Linked DNA regions of Homo sapiens. The protein of the gene in region 2 interacts with the protein of the main gene of each other region in a biochemical or structural test. Each region holds a gene or a part of one and is shown on either strand. Other genes may lie near its edges. The genes, in order: RNF32 and PRAM1.

Region 1 (7,549 bases), on a different chromosome or scaffold from region 2:
CACATGTATACATATGTAACTAACCTGCACATTGTGCACATGTACCCTAAAACTTAAAGAATAATAATAAAGAAAGAAAAAATAAATAAATAAATAAATATACAAGTGTGAGTAGAAAGTTAAAGGTAATACAGAAGATTAAGAAAAATAAATGGAGAGATGGTTTTGGTGAAGGTTAAAATTGAGAACTAAATTAAAGATGAACCCCATGCCACCAATTTCTGCTCCTTAGGTTTGTTTTAGATGTCAAGGACTGTGTTAAGAGAGACAAGAGTCAAATAGGCACTGAGTAGGCTTTGAGAATATTTTGTACATAACAAAGGAGAAATGTGAGAGCATTAAGATACTAAAATGTGAGAAGGATATTGAACTAAGAACCATTCTGACCCTGCCTAGGCTTTCATTAGTGCAGTGTTTAGAGACTAGGCAGGTGGGCAAATTCAAATATTATGGGTATGATACATTAAGAATCCATAGGCCAGGCACGGTGGTTCACGCCTGTAATCCCAGCACTTTGGGAGGCCGAGGCAGGCGGATCACCTGAGGTCAGAAGTTCAAGACCAGCCTGGCCAACATAGCGAAACCCCGACTCTACTAAAAAATACAAAAATTAGCTAAGCGTGGTGACGGGCACCTGTAATCCCAGCTATTCGGGAGGCTAAGACAGGAGAATTACTTGATCCTGGGAGGCAGAAGTTGCAGTGAGCCGAGATGGCGCCACTGCATTCCAGCCTGGGCAACAGAGACTCTGTCTCAAAATAAATAAATAAATAAATAAATAAATAAATAAATAAATAAATAAATAAAAATACAGGGCCAGCACTAGTATCCAATATCATGATCTCTAGTGTCATCATGAAGAAAACCCCATCTTCCACAAGCTGGACTCCAACTGCCTATTCTAGTATTTGAACACTTTCTGTGAATTGCGCTCTACACAAGCAAAATATAAGATTTTCCCTTCATATCAATGTCTTCCACTTAAATAGTCCGCTATTGCCATCCATCTTGGGCTGCTCTTCCTTGGATAAGCACAGGTATCATCACTCTTTTTGTGATAATGTTTATACAACAGATCTCTTAGAGTACCACCCGCAGCTTTCTTCTTAAGCACAGTGGAGTACAGAAGTGCATCTTAATCAGCCAAGTACACTGGTGCCCTTCTCCTTGTGACTAAGCACCTCAACATCCTTAACATCATGCACCTCTAATTTTCTCTTCCGTCTCCACTATTCCTAGGACATTCAATTAGTGGTTTTGAAATTCTAAAACAATCATGTGGGTGCTTACACAAATGGCACTGAACAGCACCATGGAGAATGTACTCAATAGCAGTTTTCTGAAGATGTAAACATGCTTTGTATACATGCAGTTTCTCAGGCCCATCTCAAAAAAACAAAAAAACTTTTTTAAAACAAAAGGCATAATGTTAAAATACAAATCATTGATAACATGGTTTTGGGGACAAGATAGGTTGACTATATTTTTAATTATCCCTATCCAAGAATGTTGCATTCTGATCATCTAACTCATTTCAACAGAACACACTATCTTGAAGAATGAATGTATTCTTCAAATATCAACTATGTTAGCTTTGTTTTTGTCAAGAATTAGAAAGCAATAAGGTTAAATTTTCAGTCAAGCCTATACTTAACACAAATCGATTGCACATTTCAAAATAGCTAGAATAATTTGAATGTTCCTAGTGTAAATAGAAGATAAATATTTAAGGGGATGGATATCCCAATTACCCTGATTTGATTTTATGAATTTATCGAATTATCACGTTATCCAAAAACATGTTCATCTAATATGTATCAATAAAAAATAAATTTAAAAATAAAAAATTCACAATATTCTTCGTGGCTAACTGAAGAATGACCAATTTATTTTGAATAGAAAACATGCAGACAGAAAAACTATCATGAAAATTTAAACATGTGAACAGAGGGTAGGAATTTTAAAACGGTAATTTTTCTTAGAACTTTAAAGTTCAAGAAAAATACCTTAAAACCAACATAAAGAATAGCAGGCACTGTACTAAGCAGTTCACCCACAGTATCATGTTTTAATCTCACCACAGCCATAAGGCGGTAATAGCATGCATAGATATCATTCCAATTTTTCCTGTTGCAAGTAACAGAAAACCAGACCCCATCTGGCTGAAGCCAGTAAGAGAAAAGACTAACAGGAGGGCCAGCCTCAGGACTCAAATACGTCACCAGGACATGGGTTGCGTCCCAGTCTCAGCTCTGCCAGTTCCTGTAGAACCCTCCTTCCAAGGTTCACAGGGTGGCTACCATAGCTTCAGGCCCTCACCTCATGATAAGACAGCAATACAACTGCCATTTCATGTCTGTTGCTGTTTCTACATTCAGTTAGAATTAAATAAATTTTCCAGTAGCACCCACAAAAATACTGAGTCCACCTGGTTGGCCTACCTAGATATATCGCCAGCCCTGATCAAGTCACTGGTCACGGGCCTGGATTTTCTGGTTCGCTTAGGCTAATCATACGTCCCATCCCAGGACTGAAGAAGTACCAGGGCTGTTGCTGGAGAGTGGCTAATGTCCCCTTTACAAATAAGGAGCTCATGGTTTAGGAAGATGAGCTTGCCAAAAATCACACACTTGTAAAATAAGTCAAAATTTGAACTTAAGTCTACTTATCTGAGCCCAAAGTCTTACAACCATTTATGGCTGTTATCCTAACACCTACGTCGCGGAACGGAAGAGTCCTAAGACTGCAAAGACCCTTCCTTTTCTTCTAGATCCAGTCTAAGTTGGTTGGTAATTTCTTTAGACCCTGCTTTCAGGGAAGTTTAAAAAAAATTACTTGCATTTGTATATTTTCCTTGTATTTTCGGCCAAATTTCTTCTAATTAAAGTACAACATAAGTTGAACCAACACAATAATTGTCATATTAAGAAAAGATAAAACAAACTTTACTCATTTCTGCTTCTGGGCATGGAGTGTGAGGGACCAGACTTAAGTTCTCAAACAACTACAAAATCAGACCAAAAAATACAATGGTTTCCAGGCACCGGACGACAGGCAGTGCAGGGCTGTGATCCTTAAGAGAAGGGAAGCAGCGAGCCAGAGTATCCAGGCCACAACCCAAATGGAGGCCAAGAGAGGAACAGCAGAGGATACAGAGGGAGGGTTCCAGGGGCCAAGACGCAATCCGAGGGGAAGCCCTTCCGGGGAGAGCTGGAGTCCTGGGGTGGCCTTCTCGAGTCTTCCCGAGCAGGTCTGTGCAGCGAGGAAACATCCGAGGCTGGAGTGAGCCACGCGGAGGAGGAAGAACAGCCCGAGCTCACAGGGGCGGGGAAGAGTTCTAGCTCGCGACAGCCCCTGGGAGGAACCCTGCACTATTTGTGGCGTCGAGTAAAGCACCGGAAGGCTCTGCTCAGGAGCGTGAACGACACCGCCCGCTGCAAGCCTGGAAAGGAACGCGTTGCCTCAATTCACTCCGATGTGTCACACACGCGGCTCAGTCACCTAGGGAGCAGGAAAAGGCCAGCGGGCCACGCAGGGCTCACCCGGGCCTGCATCCAAACGCAAACGGCCAGGCCCACGAAGCAGGAAACACAACCCGCAACGAGAAGCAAAGGGATCCACAGAGAAGGGCCAGGAGTCACGGACGACGCCAGGCAGTCGGCGCCTGCGCTTCCGCGAGCCAAGACGCCTGAGCGGCGCGGGGGGATCGGGGGATCCCCCAGAAAACTGCCCTCGACTAACAGCGCAGCGAAGGGGCGGTGCGCTCGAGACCCTGGAACGGGAACGACCACAGCCACCGCAGGGAAACAACCGGGGCCCAGGCCCAGGTGGGCGGGCGGCTGAGGAGCGTGGCTGCGCCCACAAAGCCGCCGGGGGCTGCGGACTACAGCGAAGCCGGCGCGGGGCTCGGCCCTCACTACACGAGGCCTGGGCGCCTGCACGCCCCCGTGCTTCAGCCCGCGGCTCCCGAACACCCCCGCCAGGCGATCCCCAAAAACGCCCGCTGCGCGAGCCTCGACGGGAACGCACCTGCGTCTAGACGCTGACGCCGTGCGCGGGGCGGGGGCCGGCGAGCATGCGCAGTGTGGTGTGGACAGGGCGTGGTTGGCAAGCATGCGCAATGTGGGCCGGGCGGGGCTGGCGAGCATGCGCAGTATGGGGCGGGGCGGGGCAGGGCTGGTGAGCAAGCCCGCGGGGAGCGAGCGCGGAGGCGGGCGTTGCTACGGCAACGGTGGGCGGCCAGGGAGTTGCCTGAGGGAAAAGGGGCAGACGTCCCTGGGTTCCGGTGTTCGCGGAGGAGTCGAGGCACGGAGAGGCTTCGGGGGAGGGACGGAAAGAAGGGTGGCCCGCCAGGCGGGCGGGGTCCATGGATTCGGGGTGAGGGCCGTCCGCGGCCTCGCTTTCGCCTCCTCCGAGCCGGGCCGGCGATGGCCGCAGCTGTGAGGCGAGGTCGGGTCCCGTAGCGGCGCGCAGCCTCCTTGGGGGACTCGGGGTCCTGGTTAGTTTCCACAGCTCCTTCTATCTGAGGGGTACGAATTTACGGCTGCCTAAAGCCTTAGAACAGTGATCCCACGTCGGTAATTTTAGAACCCGGTAGGACCGGCTGCCATCAGGGGCCCCAGGTGCAGGGTGGTGTCAGCTTTGAGAGGAATTGGAGCCTCGTCACCGCGCGCTTCCTGCATGAGTGGAACCTCAGAAAACGGTCAGCGGGGTTCAGAAGGCAGGAGATAACACCAAGACCCTACGTAGGATTGCATCTTTACGTCGTAGGCTTGGTCTCGTGTATTTTTATTGAGCGTGTTTAATTAGCTGAGGTTACTCGCTTTGGCACCCCAGTGATCGTTTTTGCCACCAAGCTCTGCCTCTTGAGCGTTTAATACTGGGATTTACAAAGCAACGGGTTCCTGTTAATCTTAGCTTTCAATACTGGGCAAGGGTTACGTTTCTAACCCTACCAGTGCCGCAGGCTCATTATATATTGAAGGACTCACCTGGTATTTGGTTTTCTCATTTATAAAGTGGAGTTGGAGTAGGTACTTGAAGGGTTTTCAATACCTTTAAATTCTGAATTTTAAACTCTAAAACTTAATGATACCGTAGGACTTTAAGAGAGTATAGGTTTTAAAAGCTCTTACCTTGATATTAATGACAGTGGTCTACTGTGTAGAAACTTGAGATTAAATTGCAGACTGCAGCTATGACCGGACCATTTTTAGTGTGATGCAAACTGTATCTTCTGCAGGTTATAGGCATTTTGGAAGCAGGAACTGAGAAAATTCTGGCAGTGATCTTTCAGTATTTTAAATTCCACCATTTCTCCAAGTTCAGTTGTCTTGATGAGATACAGGGTGGAACTTATTTCAAACATCTCTTGATGCCAGAATTGAACGGGAACAGAAAAGGGCTGTAGTAAGAACCATCATCAAAGCCTCCAGGACTTGAGCAGCGACTGACGTTTTTACTTCTAACCCTGGATATCTCAGAGATTTGGTTCCACTGTGCTTTTCTATCTCTCCACTCACGCCTTAGTGAGTTTGTTCTTTCGGTTGGAGTAATTTAATACAAGTGTTAGTCCTTAGAAATACATTTTGGATTAATTTCTTTCTATTTTTAGAGTTAGGCCCTCAACACAGTAAGTCTTCACTTAACATCATCCATAGGTTCTTAGAAACTGGAGCTTTAAGCCATGCAGTGTACAAGGAAACCAGTTTCACCATAGGTTAATTGATATAAATAAGAGGAAAGTTCCCACAGCACATTCCTGGTCACAAAAACATCGCCAAACTTCTAAATAAAGACCAAAGCACTTCTAATATGAAACACTGAAGTACATATGAGCTCTACATTTAAGAAATATCATTACCCAATTTCTGGTGAATCCATGAGTGACCGGGTTGTGGAGGGGCTGTGTTAAAGATAATGTTGGCCAAGCCAAAGCTCTGAAGCACCTCCCCCTACCATGCAGTTTCAAAACAAACAGGAGCCACTTCTCAGCCCGCTGGGCCTTTCTTACTGCATCGGGTATTGTCCTGCATCTCTGTGTGAATACCGTATGCTTTACGAGTTTTTATTTGACAATAATTTGTATCCTTTCATTTTCCAACCTGCTTATTCCAGTTCAGGGTGGCAGGGGGCTGAGCCCATCCAGGCAGCTCAGGACCAAGGCGGGCAACAGTCCTGGAGAGGACGGCATCCCATGGCAGGGCACACTCACACTCACTCAGACGGGGACGCCCCAGTGAGCCTCACGTGCACAGCTTTGGGATGTGGGAGGAACCCGGGGTACCTGGAGGAAACCCACAGCACATGGGGAGGACGTGCAAACTCCAAACAGACAGTGGCCCCTGCTGGGGATCAATTTTTTTTCTCATCAGCGTTATAGGGAAACAACATTAGAAGAAATATGTTCAAGGGCCTTCTGTGCCAGTTCCTAGATTACTTGAATAACTTTCTATTTCTCCTCATCACAGTATATTTTGAATACATCTGTCTTCATAAAATACACCATGTCCAAAATCTAAAAGGGCCAATTCCAAATTATTCCACCAGCTTTGAAGGGAATTGAAGCAAGAATAACAAGAGTAAGTTCTGTGTGAAAAGACCTACTTTAGATACTTCAAAGGTTGTCTCATTAATCCTTGCGGCAACCCTGCAAAGCCAGCGTTATTATACCTGCTTTATAGATGAGGAGCCTGGGGCTCAGCTGTGTCCAGTATCTTGCGCAGCAAAGCGGTAGAGTTCAATTGGAACTCAAGTTGGTCTGTCCCCATATTCTGTACTTCTGTGTTCTGGACAGACTGAAGTTAGCCAGTGTTCCTCTTGCGTTCCAGTTTCTTCATTGTTCCCTTTCTCCCCAAAATAAGCATATCATGCTGATTTCCAGCCTGCCAGTTCTTTCCTCCTACCTGTAATGTGCCATCTTCATTTCCCTCTGTGTATCTTTCAAATGCCAGTTTAACTGGTTTTTCCAAGTCTCCAGTGTTAGCCTGAAGTTTTGTAGTACTTATGTATCATGTTATATTTAGCAATGGATTAATTCATAGTAATTAACCATTTGTATTAATGTGTCCTCAGGAGCTCAGGGGTGAACTATTTGAGGACAGGGATGAGTCGAAGCATAACTGACTTGAGTTCACCCCCTTCCTCCAGAACCAGAATGTGTAGCTTAGTGCCACCCTGTAGCAGGCATTCCTGCTGCTTCAGGATCTGTTAGACTCTTACAGAGCATCCTCACAAACTTCATGGTTTTTCTGTGCACTGTAACTTTGACTTTCTGTTGACCACGTCTTTGCAGCAGAAGAATAGAAGGAAGGTGATAGGATGTGATGATAGAATTTGTGATAGCCAAGCAACAACTTTTCCTAATTCGGCATGTTAAAAAATAAGGTACGCTATTCTTTTCTTAAACATACACGTTATTTGACTCATGAAATGTATTTTAATTCAGCCATTTGAGAGTATAAAAACTAGTTTGCAAACCCTGCTTGAACTAGGAATTGTCAGCAGGAATGGGCGATGCCAAGTGTCGCATGGGGCAGTGGACAAGCCA
Region 2 (3,381 bases):
ATCTGCCCGACTTGGCCTCCCAAAGTGCTGGGATGACAGGCATGAGCCACCATGCCTGGCCATGATATTTTACTGTCAACTATCATTGCCCTCCTGTGCAATGGAACACCCAATTTCTTCTTCCTAACTGTAACTTTGTACCCATGGGCCAGCCTCTCCTCATCCTCCCTTCTGCCTTAGTTTTTCACCCAAATCTCATTACAGTAGAACCCCAGAACCTACCGGGTGCAGTGGCTCAGGCCTGTAATCCCAGCACTTTGGGAGGCTGAGGCAGGGGCATCACCTGAGGTCAGGAGTTAGAGACCAGCCTGGCCAACATGACGAAACCTCATCTGTACTAAAAATACAAAAATCAGCTGGGTGTGGCAGTGGGTGCTTATAATCCCAGCTACTCAGGATGCTGAGGCAGGAGAATCGCTTGAACCCAGGAGGCAGAGGTTGCAGTGAGCTGAGATCATGCCATTGCACTCCAGCCTGGGCAACAAGAATGAAACTCCGTCTCAAAAACAAAAACAAAAACAAAAGAAACAAAAAAAAAAACGGCTAGGCACGGTGGCTCACGCCTATAATCCCAGCACTTTGGGAGGCCGAGGCGGGTGGATCACCTGAGGTCAGGAGTTTGAGACCAGCCTGGCCAACATGGTGAAACCCGTCTCTACTAAAAATAAAAAAAAAAATTAGCCGGGTGTGGTGGCATGTGCCTGTAATCCCACCTACTTGGGAGGTTGAGGGAGGAGAATCGCTTGAACCCAGGAGGTGGAGGTTGCAGTGAGCTGAGATCGCGCCATTGCACACTCTAGCCTGGGCAACAAGAGCAAAACTCCGTCTCAAAAAATAAAAAAGAACCCTAGACCCAACTTGCTCTAGGAGGCAGAAGTGAAATGGCCTCGAAGCCTACAGATAAATCCTGCCTTTACCATTTACCAGCTGGGTGACCTTGGGCAGTTTGCTTGACCTCTCTGAGCCTTTATTTCCTTGTGGACAAGTTGGGCATGACAGTGGCGTCTACTGGCATGAACAAGGTTGCTGAGAGGGCTGCCATGAGGGGCGTGGCCCAGCAGTTCCCACCATGCTGAGCACGTGGCAGGAGTTAAGGGAATGGAAGGCAATCCAGAAGAACCCATGACCCCTGAGAAAGGCTTGCGGAAGAAGGTGGGCAGGGAGAGGTTTGGGAGGGGACCTGGTGGGATTTGGGGAGTCCTCAGAACTGACACAGGGAGGCCTTACTCAAGATCCAGCCACCTGCCAGGCGCAGTGGCTCACGCCTGTAATCCCAGCACTTTAGGAGGCCGAGGCGAGTGGATTGCCTGAGGTCAGGAGTTCAAGACCAGCCTGGCCCACATGGTGAAACCTGTCTGTGTTAAAAATACAAAAATCAGCCAGGTGTGGTGATGGACACCTGTAATCCCAGCTACTCGGGAGCCTGAGGTAGGAGAATCGCTTGAACCCAGGAGGCGAAGGTTGCAGTGAGCCGAGATTGTGCCATTGCACTCCAGCCTGGGTGACAGAGCAAGACTTCGTCTCAAAACAAAAACACAAAAACAAACAAAAAACAGCTACCAGGGTAAAGGCTGAGCCGGCGGGCCCTGCCTTGACTCGGAGTCCTGACTGTCCCCAGATGAAGCGCCCTCAGTTCAGCAAGCCGCCAGGAGGCCACCACAAGACCCAGCGCTCAGGTGCCATGGGCAGAGGGGGTGGGCAGACGGGGGGCGAGCTCCAGGAACCCCCAGAGGAGCACAACTTGCTCACGAGCACACAATTCCTTGGTGGGGGCTATCAGGAAGGAGAAGGATCCCCAGCCACAGCAGTTGCCACCCATGGACCCAAAGTTGCTGAAGCAGCTGAGGAAGGCAGAGAAGGCCGAGAGGGAGTTCCGGAAGAAGTTCAAGGTGAGGCCTCTGAGCTAAGCAGGAGTCCTGGCAGGGCGGAGACCAGGGTCCCACCGATCCCAGGCTCAGAAAGAAGACAGGGGCCCAAGGGCGGCAGCACAAGCAGAGGCCCTAACATCTCGCGCCCCAGTTTGAAGGGGAGATCGTGGTTCACACGAAGATGATGATCGACCCCAACGCTAAGACACGTCGCGGGGGTGGCAAGCACCTCGGGATCCGGCGCGGGGAGATCCTGGAGGTGATCGAGTTCACCAGCAATGAGGAGATGCTGTGCCGGGACCCCAAAGGCAAATGTGAGTGCGCCCGGCCCCGCAGCCCCGGGAGGTCCCCGCCGCCACCCTGGGCCTCAGAACCCACCATGCCCACTCTCTCCACAGATGGCTACGTGCCCAGAACAGCGCTCCTGCCCCTGTGAGTGCCAGCCCTGACCGTGGTGGGGGAGTGCGGGGTGTGTGGTGCAGGGTGGGGGGAATGGGCCACGGTGCCCCTTGCTGACCCAACTGTGCTCTGCCAGGGAGACGGAGGTGTACGATGATGTCGACTTCTGCGGTACGTGGACACTCTGGGAGGGCTGGAGGGACCCTGGCGATTCCCCGGGGGCGCTGCTCACTATTGGGCTTCTGGGGAGAGGGGTCCATGGAAGTCACGCTTCCTCGGCAGATCCCCTGGAAAACCAACCACTCCCCCTGGGACGGTAAGACCGGTAGGCGTGGGGCCAGGACAGCCAGCCAGCCCAGCGCCCGCTCACCCAGGAGCCCTGGATCCCGGCGCGGGAAAGTCACAGAGCTGCCTGGGCTTGTACCTGGCCACATAAAGCCCCAGTTTAAAGCAGTCCCTGCTTCTTGTCTTTTCTTTCCCTCCTGATTGGCACACAGTGGAGCAAAGGCACGGGAACCCCCTGACCAAACACAAAAGGGGGTGTGTCTGGGGTCACCCTGCCATGGTCTCACCCCTCAGGGATAAAAGCCAGTGGGGAGAAAAGGGTGGCAAGAAGCTGGTGAGCAAGGGGGGCTCCGGGTGATCAGAACAGCATGTGCTACCAGGCAGGCAGCCGGGCAGGACGCGCCCCTCCACAGCCAACAGAACAGCAGCAGCCAGGCCTCCTTGCCAGGTATGCACACCTGCTTGGCCTGAGTGGATCCTGAGAGCGCTTCACTGGGGGAAGGGGTGGGGCCTATACCCAATTCTGACAGAGCCCAGGTATCAATCAGATTTGGCCTGAGCCTCTGGCAGGACTGAACACGCATGGAAGGTGGCACACAGTTTGGTCTGTTTCAGCAGGAAAAAAAAAAAGCCAGAGAACAAGCCTGACTCAGGCAGGGCCTGTGCCCCAGGGCGTTAACTTCACAACAGGGAGACAGGATGGCTTTCGGGGGGCTTTTTTTTTTTTTTTTTTGAGACGGAGTCTTGCTCTGTTGCCCAGGCTGGAGTGCAGTGGCGCGATCTCACTCACTGCAACCTCCGCCTCCTGGGTTCGAGTGATTCTCCTGCC

Evidence for each region.
Region 1: the proteins of PRAM1 (region 2) and RNF32 form a complex in vitro, tested with the Homo sapiens proteins (one study listed by BioGRID and IntAct).

Annotation. Positions count from the first base shown.
Region 1 is NC_000007.14:156,636,507-156,644,055, forward strand, and holds the start of RNF32 (RING finger protein 32), read left to right. Parts: upstream 1-4,267; 5' UTR 4,268-4,305; exon of another isoform or gene 4,306-5,528; intron 5,529-6,470; exon of another isoform or gene 6,471-6,581; intron 6,582-7,294; 5' UTR 7,295-7,371; coding exon 7,372-7,386; intron 7,387-7,549. UniProt on the Homo sapiens protein: May play a role in sperm formation.
Region 2 is NC_000019.10:8,489,395-8,492,775, reverse strand, and holds the end of PRAM1 (PML-RARA-regulated adapter molecule 1), read left to right. Parts: intron 1-1,618; coding exon 1,619-1,676; intron 1,677-1,780; coding exon 1,781-1,889; intron 1,890-2,019; coding exon 2,020-2,182; intron 2,183-2,266; coding exon 2,267-2,300; intron 2,301-2,403; coding exon 2,404-2,438; coding exon of another isoform or gene 2,439-2,549; coding exon 2,550-2,587; 3' UTR 2,588-2,720; downstream 2,721-3,381. UniProt on the Homo sapiens protein: May be involved in myeloid differentiation. May be involved in integrin signaling in neutrophils. Binds to PtdIns(4)P.